Regions from separate parts of the Homo sapiens genome. Here region 2 is linked to region 1. Evidence: fine-mapped expression QTL. A gene starts in region 1. The other region holds a variant in brackets. All regions are shown on one strand. Distances are from middle to middle.

Evidence for each region. PIP is the estimated chance that this variant, and not a neighbour inherited with it, causes the effect. A credible set is the group of variants that fine-mapping cannot tell apart.
Region 2: its variant is the best candidate, but not a certain one, in a credible set for the expression of STXBP6 in testis (GTEx, PIP 0.87).

The regions. Positions count from the first base shown.
Region 1 is chr14:25,045,042-25,053,523 of GRCh38, reverse strand. It overlaps STXBP6 (syntaxin binding protein 6), which reads left to right and starts at 3,377. Exons shown (of 6, transcript NM_001394410.1): 1 at 3,377-3,646. LOC124903295 (a long non-coding RNA gene) reads right to left here and starts at 3,180. Exons shown (of 2, transcript XR_007064091.1): 1 at 3,090-3,180; 2 at 934-1,298.
Region 2 is chr14:25,099,974-25,108,455 of GRCh38, reverse strand. No RefSeq gene overlaps it. Among named protein-coding and RNA genes, the nearest start is that of LINC02286, 52 kb to the left of the region's middle. The variant G/T (reference allele first, on the strand shown) is at 3,730.

The sequences.
Region 1 (8,482 bases):
CAACCCAAAAGTTAATAAGCTGATGACTTCCTAAATGTCTTATCTGAAATTACATCATCAGAATGAAGAATTTGAAAAGCTACTTGCTACACCATGTAGCAGAAAAAAAAATTTTAAATATAGACTTTACTAGTCTTGAAGACATACTGTGATTGATGATGCATAAGAGATGCTGTTCAAAATAGTCACATTATAATACCCAATTCCAGATCAAGCCCTCTGTGTCCATGTCAATTTATTCCATTTGTTATTTAGACAGCACTTCCTTCAACAGCCGTAGGGAACCTAAGACATCTATATCCATGGGTGTTTTAGGTTGAGGTCGACAGTGGGCATTATGGGTTTCAGGGCAACTTTAGGTGAACTCAGTTTTCCCTTGTATCACTTAATGTGATTAATGTTCACATGGAGGGTTTTGCCACGTGATCTGGCATCCTTACAATCATGAGCTTACTTATGAAACAGGGAAGATCGCTTTTAGGTTTTCCTTTTCTTTCCCAGAATAGCAATTTAAAAGCCTCTAACTTAACATCTAGATGAACCATAAGGTCTTTTTCAGTTCTATCATTTTGTGATTAGATTTTATGGAAAAGAAAATGACTATGCTTGCTCTCACGTGCATAGGGTATTTCTATAACTATATGCAAGAAACAGGCAACATTAGTCTTTCTTGAGAAGGGAAACTTGCTTTTCCTTGTACTGAGCTTTTGTGCACTGAACTTTTTTTAAATACCATGTATTATTTGCTAACAAGAATTAAAAATACAATTTAAAATGTAAGCAAAGCATTTCACTTGTTAAAGTACAGAACCTCTCCCTGCATAAATGTTTAGTTCCTGTTCTTCTTGTTCTTCTTTATGACCTTACCATTATTGTGATTAAAAAAAAAAAAAAATCCTAGGCACTGTGGGAGGTGAAACAGATGCAGAAGACTTTGACGATGGAAATTGCTATTTATTCTGCAAATATTTGTAACTACTTGTTATGTGACAGATCCTGGGCTAGGTACTTCCTCCTTTACATGACTTCTGGAAGGCTTCTTGTTTAAACATCCACGGTCTTTTTTGTTTTTGTTTTTGTTTTTGTTTTCTTTGAGAGGTCTGCATGCTTAAAATGCTTCCCATAGATAAGCAGTGGTTTGTTCTCCATGAATGCAGCAACAAATTAGGTTACCTGCAGGGAGAATCACCTCCCACACTAAGGTAGGTCCCAGGTGTTTGAGGCAGACACTACCGTGATGACCGGTACATGAGTTAGAGAACACTTTGTACAGAGGGAGAGAGTCCTCTTGACTAGATCTGCAATATTGAGAACAAAAAGAGGCAAGTGAAGATAAAAAAGGAAGGTAGTAGAGGGAGATGACTGGCAATAGAAGCTAGTACAGTAGTATCTTACTTCACAAAATTATTGAGTTACCCAAAAGCTGATTCCAAAGTTTTGTAAATATCATCCCAACACATTAGAAAGGCTTGCTAAATTAAAGAAGCTTGCTACTTAGAGCTTTTGTCAAGCAAAAAGGCCCTTATTTCAATTCAAATTTTACATAGATGACTTGTAGGTAAGAACTCTCAACATTTTCAAAGCCCTTAGACATACATTTCTTTGGATTCTCACAAAAACGCCATGAGAATTGTTTTCCCTTCCACAGATGAGGAAAGTGAAGCTTAGAGGTTGAGCCACTTGCCCATGGAAGCCTGGTAGGGAAATGGCTGAGGTTAAGACCAGGACCCCGGCACACTACTCATTGGCACTAAGGTAGCCCCATGACATGTCTCTACAGAGATAGGCAGAGCAAAAGAAACTTACTTTTTCAGGCAATTTTCTCTGATTTTCATAAAACTGTAGCTACCAAATGGGGATACCTAGGGTATCAGTTTTATGATATCCTAGGTATCCCCGTTTCTCCCATTCTTCCCCTCCAAACCATCTTCCTGGGTCTGCTGCCCTGTCCATCTTCACAGAATTCAGTTCGGATTGTCTCCTCCCCCAGCATCTCTGCTATCTCCACGTAGTCTACAAACTAAGTGCAGGAGCCACAGACTGACAGTCAGGACTTCTGCCTGAGCCCCCATCCACAGCTCAAACCCTCTTTCCTATTTCACTATGCTAATGCTTACCCCTTGCACTCCAAACAAGCAGGTCTGTGTACCACCATCTAACACCCCAACAGGGCCAGGCTAGGGTGAGGTGAGTCACAGCACTTAAAGGTTCACCAAAGAATTCAGTAATCAAGGTTAATATTTTAATGGAATATTTAAAAAAATCAAAATTAATATCAAAAATGCATGATGAAAAATAACAAAATTTTAAATAAAGACAGGGTAAGTTTAGGGGTTTTTCCTATTGCTTCAGGCTCAAAAGTGCCTTCCGGGGCACTGTTATCGGCCCTGCAGTGACTCCCCACACAGATACTTTTACTAATGATGTTTCCCAAAAGTTAGTTCTTACAACCGCTTTCTACATTAGTAACGTCTTTCTTCTTGAACGCTCCAGCATTTAAGTGTAGCGCTCTACTGTCAGGAAAACCCATTTCCCCTAGTAACTAGTAGTACTTCGAAGATATTCTGAATCATCTTGGATCCTTTCCAGCACTTTCCCAAACCACAGTGAGCACTCAGCACCACTTCGCTAAAAGAGTGCAGAATCACAATGCTCAAATCACTGTCTGGGGGGTTCAGCAGGGAGGGGACGCAGATATGTTTTGTTTAGTCCAGGGTGTTTTGAGAAAATTGAATTTGTTATCAAGATTTTACAAATCAGGATATTGTACATGAATATACTCCGTCATTTCTGGAAAAATCAGAAAATCTAGCAACACTAGGTCTAATTCTTGCCCGATAGCAAGGGACCCTGAGAGCAGATAAGCGGCCCTGCCTTCGGAGCTCTCTCCAGTTCGCCTTCCCCCAGTTACAGTGCCTGTCAGGCCCCATTAGATCTTTGAGTTTGCTATCGTAAGAATAAAGGAAGGAGCGCACAGGATAAAAACCCATCGGCTGGGTCTATTCGTTTTTTCCTAGAGAAAAAAAAAAATGTTTCCTGGTTGTCCTTTCGAATATAGTCTCACAGAGAAGCTCACAGAAGCAGCCCACCTTTCTAGCCCACAAACTTCCCACAAGCCGTGAAAGTCGCACCGGCTCTTGCACCCAGATCGGTTTCTCCCGGGTCTTTGGCTCAGGGCCCCCGCCCCTACATTGGCCTTTCCCTTCCTCTGCCACCTCCGCGCTCCGAGGCCTGGGGCGGGTCGCGGGTCCCGGCCCCCAGCCCCCAGCCCCTAGCCGCTGCTCTTTGCCCCGGGCCAGGGCGCTCGGGCTCGCCCACGGCGGCACTGAGCATGCTCAGAGGCGGCCGCGCGGGCAGGTTTGCTTCGCAGGCGCTCGCACTCGGCGGCGGGCGGGCGCGCGGCTGCAGCTGGAGCTCCAGCGCCCGGAGTTGGAGTTGCCGGGAGTTTCCCCCCAACCCCTCCCTTTTCGCGCGCGGCAGCAGGAGCCGGCGCGGGAGCCGCGAGCGGCGGCGAGCCAGCACCCGGGCCGGCTAAGCCTTGTCCGGAGCCCGGAGCCCCGCGCGGGGCAGCCCCCCGGGGAGGAGCCTCGTGCTCTGGGACGCGTGCCGCGCACTGGCACGGCAGGGGCGCGAGCCAGGCTGCACGGTAGGACCGGGGCGAGGGGAGCCAGGCGGTCAGGGCGGAGGCCAAGCCCGGGAGATGCGGTTGCAGCCGCCACGGCTGTTGGGGCGCCTGGCGCTCCGTCCGAGGCGGGTGGCTGTGAGGCCAGGGGAGTAGGCAGGCTCCCAGAGAGATTCTTCCAAGTTGGCGGGTGGCGGGAGAGGGGGCCGCGCGCCCCGGCGCAGCTGCTTTGTGCGCGCAGAGAGGGACTCGTGTCCCTGGTTCTCTCCAACCCTGGGACCCGTTGTGCGGGCAGTATTGGGCAAGCCGCAGAACGGAGCGATTTCCTCCGAGAAAGTTGAGGATGGAGCCTTTTTTTCCGCACCGTCCCCGCGATGGCATGGGCCCCGAGAATGCTGCCCCGAGGCTCCCAGTGTGGGGGAGCTCGGGGTCGCTGCGCCTCTAGCTTGAGCGCAGAAATCCGCGAATCACTCCGATCTTCGCGAACTCTGGCATCTTCTAGGAAAATCATTACTGCCAAAACTGAGGCGAGCTTTTCTGGCGGGCACGGCACCCTGCCCCCAGGGCGCTGGCCCTGGGCGATGCCCCCTTTCCGATCTCAGGCTTGGTCAAGGGCGCCAGGTTCCGAATTCGCGCTTGCCGTGCACGCCGGCATCGAGCCTCACCAACACCGCCGGGCAACGTGGCTGGAGTAGGTGGGTGGCTTGATTTTCCCTCCAACCTTTCCTCAGGTTTACAACACCCCGCCACCTCACCACCCCACCCCGTTCATCTTCACAGAGGACAGGACCTGCAGGTGGAGAATTTGGAAAGACATCTTGTTCTTTAGGAGAAAGTCCCCGGGGTGTATCTGCCCTTGGTTCTGGCCCCAGGATTTCATAACGAACCTTCTCCCCTTCCTATTACGCTTCCCTAGGGACTGGGTGGGAGAGAATAGGATCGGTAGGTCCGCAGGAACTTCCATCTCATTCCACCCTCTCCTAAGATTGCCTTCCGGGCGACCCCAGGACCCTGGAACTGGCATTGTGCGGATTGTAAGGCTGTGGAGGATGCCGACGAATTTTTCCTGGCTCCACTTTTTTCACTTCTTGTTTTGAGTTTTGGGGTTTTGCCTGCACACTAGTCAGAGCTGCGCCCTAGTCAGAGCCACCCTGGGGGTGGAGGAGCTTCAGCCGAGGCTGTGAGCTGCTGTTCGTCTCAGAGGCTGCTAGTGGGAATCGGTCCAGAAATGATTATGCAGGCTAGAAATATGCCTCTCTTTTTTTCTTTTTTGGCTGAACACCTTGGCTGTTGGGTTTGTGTGTTACGTTCTTAAAGGGACACCCTCACACTGCTCAAGTGCCAGGATTTAGGGGCTCACCATTCTGCTGCCTGTTTTTCTCTTTGCTTTTTCCTTGAGGGTAGTCTGCTTTGGGGCCGATTTCTAGATGTGCGAATCACATAATGTGGATACACTACACAGTTCTAGAGTCAGACAGACTTGAGGTCAAGTTTCAGCTTTACAGCTGATGACAGTGCTGATGGACAAATGATTAGTCACTCTGAACTTAAGTTTTCTCTTCTGTCAAACGGAGATAATCGTGGCCTTACCTCCCTCCATTGCAGGGTTGTTGTAAACTCAGATGAGATAATGAAAATGAAAAGAGCTAAGAAAACTTTAAAAGCACCATTCAGGTCTTAGATATTGTCTCTGTGCTCTTTACTCAGTTGTTTTGAATGAGCTAATTCTTAATTATAACAAGACATCTAGGTCTTCTCTCCTCTCTGTCCACTCCTCACCAAGTGGTTTAGTTGCTTGGGCCTTTGGAAGCATCTGTTTACCCTTTTTCTTTCTCTATCCTCAAATCCATCTCTTTTGATTTTAAGAATTGGAGCTCCAGTCCTCATATTTATCTGAGGAAGGCAGCATGATGTAGATTAGGAGATGACTGGGGTGGCCTTATCAACATTCAGAGTCCTAGGCCCCAGAATTGGCACGGTCAGAAAGGCCTTAGTTTGAAACTCAAGGCTGATGAAGAAGTCAGCAGATCCTGGAATGGAGCTCTGACTTGACCTCTAATAGTGACCTTGAACTAAGGACTCAAATCCTAATCTGTGAAATCAGTCTATGAAGATTAAAAGCCAGTATCAATTGAAGGCAAGAACAGGTGAGATTATCACTCAGTTAAAAAGGGTTCACACAGGCTCCTGAGCCACCCCAGGTGCAGCATCTTCCCTAATCTTAGGGCAGTGGTTCTCAGATCAGAATCATCTGGAGGGCTTGTTACATCTCAAACTGTTGGGCTATACTGCCAGAGTCTCTGATTCTCTAGGTCTAGGGTGAAGGCCCAAGAATTAGCATTTCTGACTAGTTCCAGATGATGCTAATGGTGCTACAGACCATGCCTATAGAATCACTAACTTATGGAGTGGGAGATAGTAAGAGAGATGACGTTTGTTGTGAAATGCCATTATTTTACTAGCTCATATACAGAGACAAGGTTTCTTTGGGGGTGTGTTGGGAAGTCTCCTTAGGCATTTTATGTTCCAATGCCTGTGCCACTTACCATTATCTAGGTTTAATAATTCTGATTGCTCTTCAAATGGATGTATTTTACAAAGAGGTAGGATTCCCCCTTCTTTTCATACTGTAAAATATGTAGTCTCAGGTTTTAGATCACCCTTGGGTAGTGCCGGATTGGTGACCTTTATAATTTATAAAATCTAAAAACTACCCCATTTCCTTTTTTGGAGAAACCTCAGACATTTGTGGAAAGGAGGTTACGTACAGTTCTGACAGCTTGAACCTTAAGGTTGGAGGACAGAATAGATCACCTAGGGAACAAGTTTAAGAAGAATTTGCAGTGGTGTCTTTTCCGAATGGACAGCTTACCCAGGCCCTGGAAGGAGCATGAAGTACACCCCACGACAAATGTCCCATGGTGGTTAGACCTGGCAAAGCCCTTTCATTCCTTCTGGAGAATGGTAGTGGCATTGGCAGTGGCTGAGACCCTCTCTTCGTCTCTAAGAGGGTAGAAGGCTGGCTTTCAGGGGCAGCTGATCAGTATTAGTGTGGTGTCCTGTGTAACCTAGCTTGTAATGAAGCACTATTGGGACCTAACCCAATCTTAAGCTCTTTTCCTTTTCCCCCACGCCATAGTCCTGTGCTGTGAGCTCACCATGACTTCCTATGACCTAGACTGTGGCCTTGAATTTTGACTGCTTTGCATCAGAGAGGCTGTGGGAGCCTGCTTGAGTCAGGAGGGTTCCTGCAATAACATCCTAAGGAAGAAATAAAGTTTACATAATGTAGTGCCCAAATCAATTAGGTATAAGAGGAGGTCAGTCAGTGCCTTAACTAGTTCTTGTGTTGCTAGGCCAAATGGGATCCCAGCTCACTGTCATGCTTTATCTCAGCTGTCCATTTGTGCTTTGTTTTAGTTTTAAAATGATTAGCACTAGAGAAACCTATCAGTAAATCAGAAACCTTTAAAAAACTCAAGTGTACACTTAGTGTTTTAGTAGATAAAACTTTCAGGCCCAAACCTGTCTTCCTGACAGCAGTCAGCACTTGGTGAAGGAACAGCCTTCTGGTTGTCACTCTTAAGATTCATTAGTTAATTTCAATGGTTTTTCCCACTTAGTATAAGTAGGGAACATTTCTATTTTAAAATTTCTTCCCATAACCTGATGTTTATATTTTGGGTGTTACCCCTGCTTTGAGGGCAGCCTCTTATCACTGTTGTTCACTTTTCTCAGTACATGGTATCTTTGCTCCCTTTAATAAATCTGTTGTGAGACGGTCATTATGACACTTTATTTCTTTTTGGTCATTAGGACTGTTATTACTGAGTCACAGAGAGTCAGGGCCCATTCCTAGAGCATTATTCTCTATGTTCCTAGAGGGTGCTTTTAAACTAAAACACTAGTTATACTGCACTAGCTCATTTCTAAGATACATTCTTTTTCTGATTTCAGAAGCCCAGATGGATCTTAAAAATTATGAACACATTTAGGCCAGGTGCAGTGGCTCACACCTGTAATCCCAGCGCTTTGGGAGGCTGAGGCGGGTGGATCACCTGAGGTCAGGAGTTCAAGAGCAGCCTGACCAACATGATGAAAACCTGTCTCTACTAAAAATACAAAAACAAATTAGCTGGATGTGGTGGTGGGCACCTGTAATACCAGCTACTCGGGAGGCTGAGGCAAGAGAATTGCTTGAATCTGGGAGACGAAGGTTGCAGTGAGCCGAGATCGTGCCATTGCACTCCAGCCTGGGCAACAAGAGTGAATCTCCATCTCAAAAAAAAAAAAAAAGAAAAGAAAAAAAAAGTATGAACGCATTTAATGTGCAGTTTTTTTTTCTTCTGTAACCTAGTATGTTAGTGTAGTGACTATCAATTGATGACATCCTCAAACAAAGCAAGGTTAGTTCCTTATTCTGGTAGAAAATATGGTTTCTACTCAATGCTGTCCAGCTGATTGAATTGCTGAGCAGTTAGCTCAGCAGTTCCGAGAATATGTTGGGTAAAGTGCTGTTGGGGTGGGTATTAATCAGTTTGCTCTTATAAAGGGCAAATCCATTTGGGAAGCACTGCCTATTATTTTTTTTTCCTCTTGTAGAGATTCTCAACATGGGCATCATTATATCAAAGACTATGAGAAGTACTATAGTTAACTATATCAACGACAAAAACTTGGTTACATTTATTCAAGTCAGCGTTTCCCAGAATACAGAATTTTCTGAGGTTATATATGTATCTTTTAGGACTCCATTACTGAGTTAGCACAAACCACAATTTTAATATGTGATTTAATATTGTGGGTGGGATGGTTTCACCTAGTATATCCCGAAAATATAGGGACATTCATTAAGTATGG
Region 2 (8,482 bases), 55 kb before region 1:
GAGGCCATGTGATCTAAACATTTGCATCATTATTTCACAGAGGCCAGCCTGCCAAACAGCTGTATCAGAATCCACCTGGGGGAACATTCTTTTTTTTTTTTAAATACTTTAATTTCTGGGATACATGTGCAGAACATGCAGGTTTGTTACATAGGTATACACATGCCATGGTGGTTTGTTGCACCCATCGACCCATCATCTACATAAGGTATTTCTCCTAATGCTACCCCTCCCCTAGCCCCCCACCCCTGACAGGCCCCAGTGTGTGATGTTCCCCTCCCTGTGTCCATGAGTTCTCATTGTTCACCTCCCACTTATGACTGAAAACATGCAGTGTTTGATTTTCTGTTCCTGTGTTAGTTTGCTGAGAATGATGGCTTTCAGCTTCATCCATGACCCTGCAAAGGACATGAAGTCATTCTTTTGTATGGCTGCATAGTATCCATGGTGTATATGTGCCACATTTTCTTTATCCAGTCTATCATTGATGGGCATTTGGGTTCCAAGCCTTTGCTATTGTGAATAGTGCTTCAATAAATATACATGTGCATGTGTCTTTATAGGAGAATGATTTATAATCCTTTAGATACATACCCAGTAATGGGATTGCTGGGTCAAATGGTATTTCTGGTTCTAGACCTTTGCAGAATCGCCAACACATTGTCTTCCACAGTGGTAGAACTAACTTACACTCCCACTAACAGTGTAAAAATGTTCCTATTTCTCCACATCCTCTTCAGCATCTGTTGTTTCCTGACTTTTTAATGATCACCATTCTAACTGGCATGAGACGGTATCTCACTGTGGTTTTGATTTGCATTTCTCTAATGACCAGTGATGATGAGCTTTTTTTCATATGTTTGTTGGCCACATAAATGTCTTTTTTGGGGAAGTGTCTGTTCAGATCCTTCGCCCACTTTTTGATGGGGTTGTTTTTTTCTTGTAAATTTATTTAAGTACTTTGTAGATTCTGGATATCAGCCTTTTGTCGGATGGATTGCAAAAATTTTCTCCCAAACTGTAGGTTGCCTGTTCACATTGATGATAGTTTCTTTTGTGTGCAGAAGCTGTTTAGTTTAATTAGATCCCATTAGTCAATTTTGGCTTTTGTTGTCATTGCTTTTGGTGTTTTAGTCATGAAGTCTTTGCCCATGCCTATATCCTGAATGGTATTGCCTAGGTTTTCTTCTAGAGTTTTTACAGTTTTAAATGTTACATTTATGTCTTTAATCCATCTTGAGTTAATTTTTGTATAAGGTTTAAGGAAGGGGTCCAGTTTCAGTTTTCTGCATATGGCTAGCCAGTTTTCCCAACACCATTTATTAAATAGGGGATTCTTTCCCCATTGCTTGTTTTTCTCAGGTTTGTCAAAGATCAGATGGTTGTAGATGTGTGGTTTTATTTCTGAGGCCTTCATTCTGTTCCATTGGTCTATATATCTGTTTTGGTACCAGTACCATGCTCTTTTGGTTACCATAGCCTCGTAGCATAGTTTGAAGTCAGGTAGCATGATGCCTCCAGCTTTATTCTTTTTGCTTAGGATTGTTCTTTGCTATGCAGGCTGTTTTTTGGTTCCATATGAAAATTAAAGTAGTTTTTTCTTATTCTGTGAAAAAAGTCAATGGTAGCTTGATGGGGTTAGCATTGAATCTATAAATTACTTTGGGCAGTATGGCCATTTTCATGATATTGATTCTTCCTATCCATGAGCATGGAATGTTTTTCCATTTGTTTGTGTCCTCTGTTATTTCACTGAGCAGTGGTTTGTAGCTCTCCTTGAAGAAGTCCTTCACATCCCTTGTAAGTTGTATTCCTAGGTATTTTACTCTCTTTGTAGCAATTGTGAATGAGAGTTCACTCATGATTTGGTTCTCTGTTTGTCTATTATTGGTGTATAGGAATGCTTGTGATTTTTGCACATTGATTTTTATCCCGAGACTTTGCTGAAGTTGTTTAACAGCTGAAGGAGATTTTGGGCTGAGATGATGGGGTTCTCTAAATATACAATCATGTCATCTACAAACAGACAATTTGACTTCCTCTCTTCATCTTTGAATACCTTTGTTTCTTTCTCTTGCCTGAATGCCCTGCCCAGAACTTCCAATACTATGTTCAATAGTAGTGGTGAGAGAGGGCATCCTTGTCCTGTGTTGGTTTTCAAAGGGAATACTTCCAGCTTTTGCCCATTCAGTATGATATTGGCTGTGGTTTGTCATAAATAGCTCTTATTATTTTGAGATCCATTCCATCAACACCTAGTTTATTGAGAGTTTTTAGCATGAAGGGGTGTTGAATTTTATCAAAGGCCTTTTCTGCATCTATTGAGATGATCATGTGGTTTTTATCATTGGTTGTGTTTATGTGACGGATTATGTTTATCAATTTGCTTATGTTGAATTTGCGTGTGCATCCCAGGGATGAAACTGACTTGATCATGGTGGATAAGCTTTTTGATGTGCTGCTGGATTCGGTTTGCCAGTATTTTATTAAGGATTTTTCTCATCGATGTCATCAGGGATATTGGCCTGAAATTTTCTTTTTTTATTATGTCTCTGCCAGGTTTTGGTATCGGGATGATGCTGGCCTCATAAAATGAGTTAGGGAGGAGTCTCTCTTTTCAAATTGTTTGGAATAGTTTCAGGAGGAATGGTACCAGCTCCTCTTTGTACCCCTGGTAGAATTCGGCTGTGAATCCATCTGGTCCTGGGCTTTTTTTTGGTTGGTAGGCTATTAATTACTGCCTCAATTTCAGAACATGTTATTGGTCTATTCAGGGATTTGACTTCTTCCTGATTTAGTCTTGGGAGGGTGTAGGTATCCAGGAATTTATCCATTTCTTCTAGATTTTCTAGTTTATTTGCGTAGAAGTGTTTATGGTATTCTCAGATGGTAGTTCATATTTCTGTGGGATCAGTGGTGATAGCCCCTTTATCATTTTTTATTGTGTCTATTTGATTCTTCTCTCTTTTCTTCTTTATTAGTCTGGCCCCTCTGCTGCAGGTCTGGTAGAGTTTGCTGGAGGTCCCTTCCAGACCCTATTTGCCTGGGTATCACCAGCAGAGGCTGCAGAACAACAAAGATTGCTGCCTGTTCCTTCCTCTGGAAGCTTCGTCCCAGAGGGGCACCCACCAGATGCCAGGCAGAGCTCACCCATATGAGGTGTCTGTTGGCCCCTGCTGGGAGGTGTCTCCCAGCCAGGAGGCATGGGGGTCAGACACCCACTTGAGCCGGCAGTCTGTCCCTTAGCAGAGCTTGAGAGCTGTGCTAGGAGATCCTCTGCTCTCTTCATAGCCAGCAGGCAGGGATGTTTAAGTTTGCTGAAGCTGCACCCACAGACGCCCCTTCCCCCCGGTGCTCTGAGGGAGATGGGAGTTTTGTCTATAAGCCCCTGACTGGAGCTGCTGCCTTTTTTCAGAGATGCCCTGCCCAGAAAGGAGAAATTTAGAGAGGAAGTCTGGCTACAGTGGCTTTGTGGAGCTGTGGTGTGCTCTTCCGGGTTCAAACTTCCCAATAGCCTTTGTTACACTGTGAGGGGAAATGGTCTACTCAAGCCTCAGTAATGGCGGATGCCCCTCCCCTCAATAAGCTGGAGTGTCCCAGGTCAAATCCAGACAGCTGTGCTGGCAGCCAGAATTTCAAGCCTGTGGATCTTAGCTTGCTGGGCTCCATGAGGTTGGGATCTGCTGAGCTAGACCACTTGGCTCCCAGCTTCAGCCTCCTTTCCAGGGG[G/T]GTGACCGGTTCTTTCTCGTTGGCATTCCAGGTGCTACTGGGATATTAAAAAAAAACTCCTGCAGCTAGCTTGGTGTCTGCACAAACATCCACCCAGTTTTGTACTTGAAACCCAGGGCACCAGTGGTGTAGGCACCCGAGGGAATCTCCTGGTCTGCGGGTTGTGAAGACTGTGGGAAAAGCATAGTATCTGGGCTGGAGTGCATCATTCCTCATAGCACAGACCCTCACGCCTCCCTTGGCTAGTGGAGGGAGTTTCCTGACCCCTTGCACTTTCTGGGTAAGGCAACGCCCCACCCTGCTTCTGCCCGCCCTCTGTGGGCTGCACCCACTGTCTCACCAGTCCCATTGAGATGAGCCGGGTACCTCAGTTGGAAATGCGGAAATCACTCGCCTTCTGTGTTGATTCGGCCATCTTACCAGCGACCTCGGGAACATTCTTAAAATACAGATTTCCAGGCCACATCTTGGGGACTTCTAAATTAGTTAGTCTAGAATAGGGCCCAGGCAACTCTACTTTTAACAAACTCCACTGTTGGAAAAGCAACTTGAAAAGATGCATGTACATACTGGACAATGGGTGATATTCCCGGCAGGAAATCATGTCAAAGAACCATCAGACTGTGGGTCCTAGCAAAAGGCTGAAGCATGGCAGCATTTAGAGATGAAAGCAGACAGGCAGGCCAGCAGAGGCCGGCAGTTCCTGTCCACAAAGCTTAGAAGGAGGAGCACAGTCACAACCATGAAGTGGGGTTTAGAGAAAGCTGCTCAGTGCTGAAAATGATCAAATCCTGAGCAGGTTATCCACACAGGGACACAAGCATGGCAGGACCAAAGAGGTGAGTGGAACTGGACAAACCTGGGGCTTGGTCATGAGAATAGGACAGAGGCCCAGTCTTTAAAGCTAACACAGAATTAAGGGGCATTAGTGCTTGTTGAACATCAATTCTGTGGAAGGTGCTTTTCACAGGCTGGCTCTGGTGTTACCCTCACACACACTGATTTAATCCCCATTTAATAGATGAGGTGGATTTAAAAGGTGAACAGGGGCTAATTTTTATCTTACTGGGCCACAATATCACCATCTTTAAAATGAGTAGAATAATTCTTACCCTGGCGTGGTATGGTCCCTGGTACACGGTAATGTTTAAAAGAAATTTCATAGTCTCTGAAAGGAAACCCTACACTTACGTTTTGCTATTTTGCAATACAATGTGTTCAAAAACATACCACAGCTTTTTATATCTAGTTAACTTCCCTAACTAGCTTTTAAAGCCCTCTCTTACCCAATCACATGCTCCACACCAAATGCATTTCTCACACTCCTCCGAGCCCCACACTCCATGCAAACTAACCCAGAGGCACACTAGGCCTCCTTTGCCATCCTCTCTATTGCTAGATGGTAGAACACATCTGTACATTTTCCCCTTCCTCCTTCCTTATATATATAAACAGTGAATTTGTAGTAAATACATGATCTATGCCAGGCACTGTACTGCATAATTTATTTGCATTATTTCTTTCGAGAGTCATGATGACCCTATGAGGTAGCTATTATTATTTTAACACTTTTACCAATGAGTAAAGTGAGGCCTTAAAGAAGAGATACAGCATACATAAGATGACACATTTAGTAAATGACAGAGACATGCTTTGGACTCAGGTTTATCTGTGAACAAAGCCTTCGCTTCTAGCATCTGTGCCATGCTCTCTGCTGTTGACCCAAGCTGTTGGTCATACAAGGCTGAACTAACACTTACTTCCTCCCTGAAGGGGAGGGCACCTCTAGGCTTCACTGGATCAAAGGCAACACCAAAATTTTTATTTAAGCACATCAAAGTCTGGAAACCAAATAGAGAATCAGTGAGAACACTTCATTATCCCTTGCAAAAGGTGCCCTCAAGGCAAAACAGGGAAAGAGTGAAGCTCTCTGAATCCTTAATACTTGAGTCTTGTTCCAGGAAGATATTAGCTGGGCCTCATTTATTTATTTATTTTTATTTTTTATGGGAATTTTTAAATTTGTGTCTAAGTAGGTATATGTATTTGAACATAAGACAGGCCATATTTCATACAGATTGTGTGTATTATGGGTGAAGACATATTTTGTGCAAGTCAGAAATAGGCATCACTTTCACCATGGCTCGCCTGGGGTAACTGTTTTGGTTGCAAAGCCACTTGGTGACCAACATCTGTTAGTCTCTTAGGAACCAATCTAAATTAGATAGGTGGCAGAAAGAGAGTGACTCTGCGTGTGTAGCACTGGAAAGTCAGATATCTTCAAATAGCAATCTTAAGGTAATTTGGGGTACTGTCTTCTTTTAATATGTTTTCTGATTATAAAAATAATACATGGTAACCATAGTATCATTGAAAAATACAAAAATATATAAAGAACAAAATTCTTTAATCCTGTGATCCCACTTCCAGAGATAACAACTAATATCCTTTATCTTTCTTTCTAGTGAAGTGATCTTTAAAAGCCAAGGAAAGGAAGACAGGAAAAATGAAGATAAATCCCAAAAGATCAATATTTACTTTTAGTCTGCATTTAAGTGTGCATCGTTGAGAGAATCCACGGCAACTTTTATTAAAGATAGAAGTTGTACTTGCCAACACATCAACAATTTATGTTTAGAAACAAGATACTCAATCTCAAGTTATCTTCCCTCTGTAAGCCGCATTTAGCTTTTTAAAAATCAAGATATTGAGATGCATTATACATATTGCAAAATCGATGTTTTTAGGTGTACCGTTTTATAAATCCTGACAAATTTATACCGTTGTGTTTACAATACCACAAACAAGAAACAGAACATTTCTATCACTCCAAATGTTTCTTTGTGTCCTTTGTAATCAGTTTTCTTCCTCCAAGGCCAGAGCCTGATAACTACCAATCTGCTCTGTGTCTTAATAGCTTTGCCTTTTCTGGAAGGACATCTCAATGGAATCCTATAGTATGTAGCATTTGAAACGGGCATCTTTCTTTTAATATATTTGAGATTCATCAGTGTTGTTGCATGCTAAATAATATTCCATTGAATAGGTTTGCTGCAATATGGTTTATGCATGCACCAGTTGGTAGACATTTCCGTTGTCTGCCAATTTTGGCAATTATGAATAATAGCAATATAAACATTTGTGTGCAAGTCTTCGTGTGCAAGATGTGTTTTCATTTCTTTTCAGTAAATTTCTAGTGGTGAGATTTTGAAGTCATATGGTAAGTGTATGTATAACTTTAAAAGAAACTGCCAAACCATTTTCCAATCAGGCAGTAAAAATCTGCATTTGCATTGGCAATGTGTGATAGTTTCACTCACTCCACATTACTATAAGCACTTAGGATTACTGAGTTTTTAAATTCTTAGCCATTTGACTAGCTGGGCTGTTGTTATGATTTAGATTTCCCTAAGCACTTACAATTATAGGATTTTTTTTTTTTTTTTTTTTTTGAGACAGAGTCTCGCTCTTGTCTCCCAGGCTGGAGTGCAATGGTGCCATCTTGGCTCACTGCAACCTCTGCCTCCTGGGTCTAAGCGATTCTCCTGCCTCAGCCTCCCAAGTAGCTGGGATTACAGGTGCCCACGACCACACCGGGATAATTTTTGTATTTTTAGTAGAGGTGGAGTTTCACCATGTTGGCCAGGCTGGTCTTGAACTCCTGACCTTAGATGATCTGCCCGCCTCAGCCTCCCAAAGTGCTGGGATTACAGGCGTGAGCCACTGCACCCAACCAGATTATCTGATTTTTTAAATTTTAGCCATTGGAATAGATGGGCTGTGGTTATGATTTAAATTTCCCTAATGACTAATGATAGTGGGCATCATTTTATGATTTTTTTTTTTGCCATCTGTGTCTCCTTTGGTGAATTCAAATAGTTTTGCCCATTTTAAAATTCAGTGTGTTTGTTTTCTAATTATTGTGTTGTGAGGGTTATTTATATATTCTGCATACCAATGCTTTGTCAGGTAAGTGTTAACCAACATATTATTCTAACGTGTGGCTTGTTTTTCATTTTCTTATTTTTAGGATTTTTTTTTAATTTAAATTTTATTTTAAGTTCAGGAGTACATGTTTATGTTCGTTATATAGGTAAACTTGTGTCATAGGGGTTTGTTGTACAGATTATTTTGTCACCCAGGTATTCAGCCTAGTATCCATTAGTTTTTTTTCCTGATCCTCTCCCCCATCCCACCCCTCATTTTCCAATAGGCTTCAATGTGTGTTGTTCCCCTCTATGTGTCCATATGTGCTCATCATTTAGCTCTACCTTGTAAGTGAGAACATGTGGTGTTTGGTTTTCTGTTCCTGCATTAGTTTGATAAGGATAATGGCCTCCAGCTCTACCCATGTTCCTGCAAAAGGACATGATCTCATCCCTTTTTATGGCTGCATAGTATTCCATGATATATATATGTACCATATTTTCTTTATCCAGTCTACCATTGATGGGCATTTAGGTTGATTCCATGTCTTTGCTATTGTAAATAGTGCTGCAGTGAACATACGTGTGCACTTATCTTTATGATAGAATGATTTATATTCCTTTGGGTAAATACCTAGTAATGGAATTGCTGGGTCAAATGGTATTTCTGGCTCTAGGTCTTTGAGGAATCGCCACATTGCCTTCCACAATGGTTGAACTAATTTACATTCCCACCGACAGTGTAAAAGCATTCCTATTTCTCCACAGCCTCATCAGCATCTGTTGTTTCTTGACTTTTTAATAATCACCATTCTGACTGGCATGAG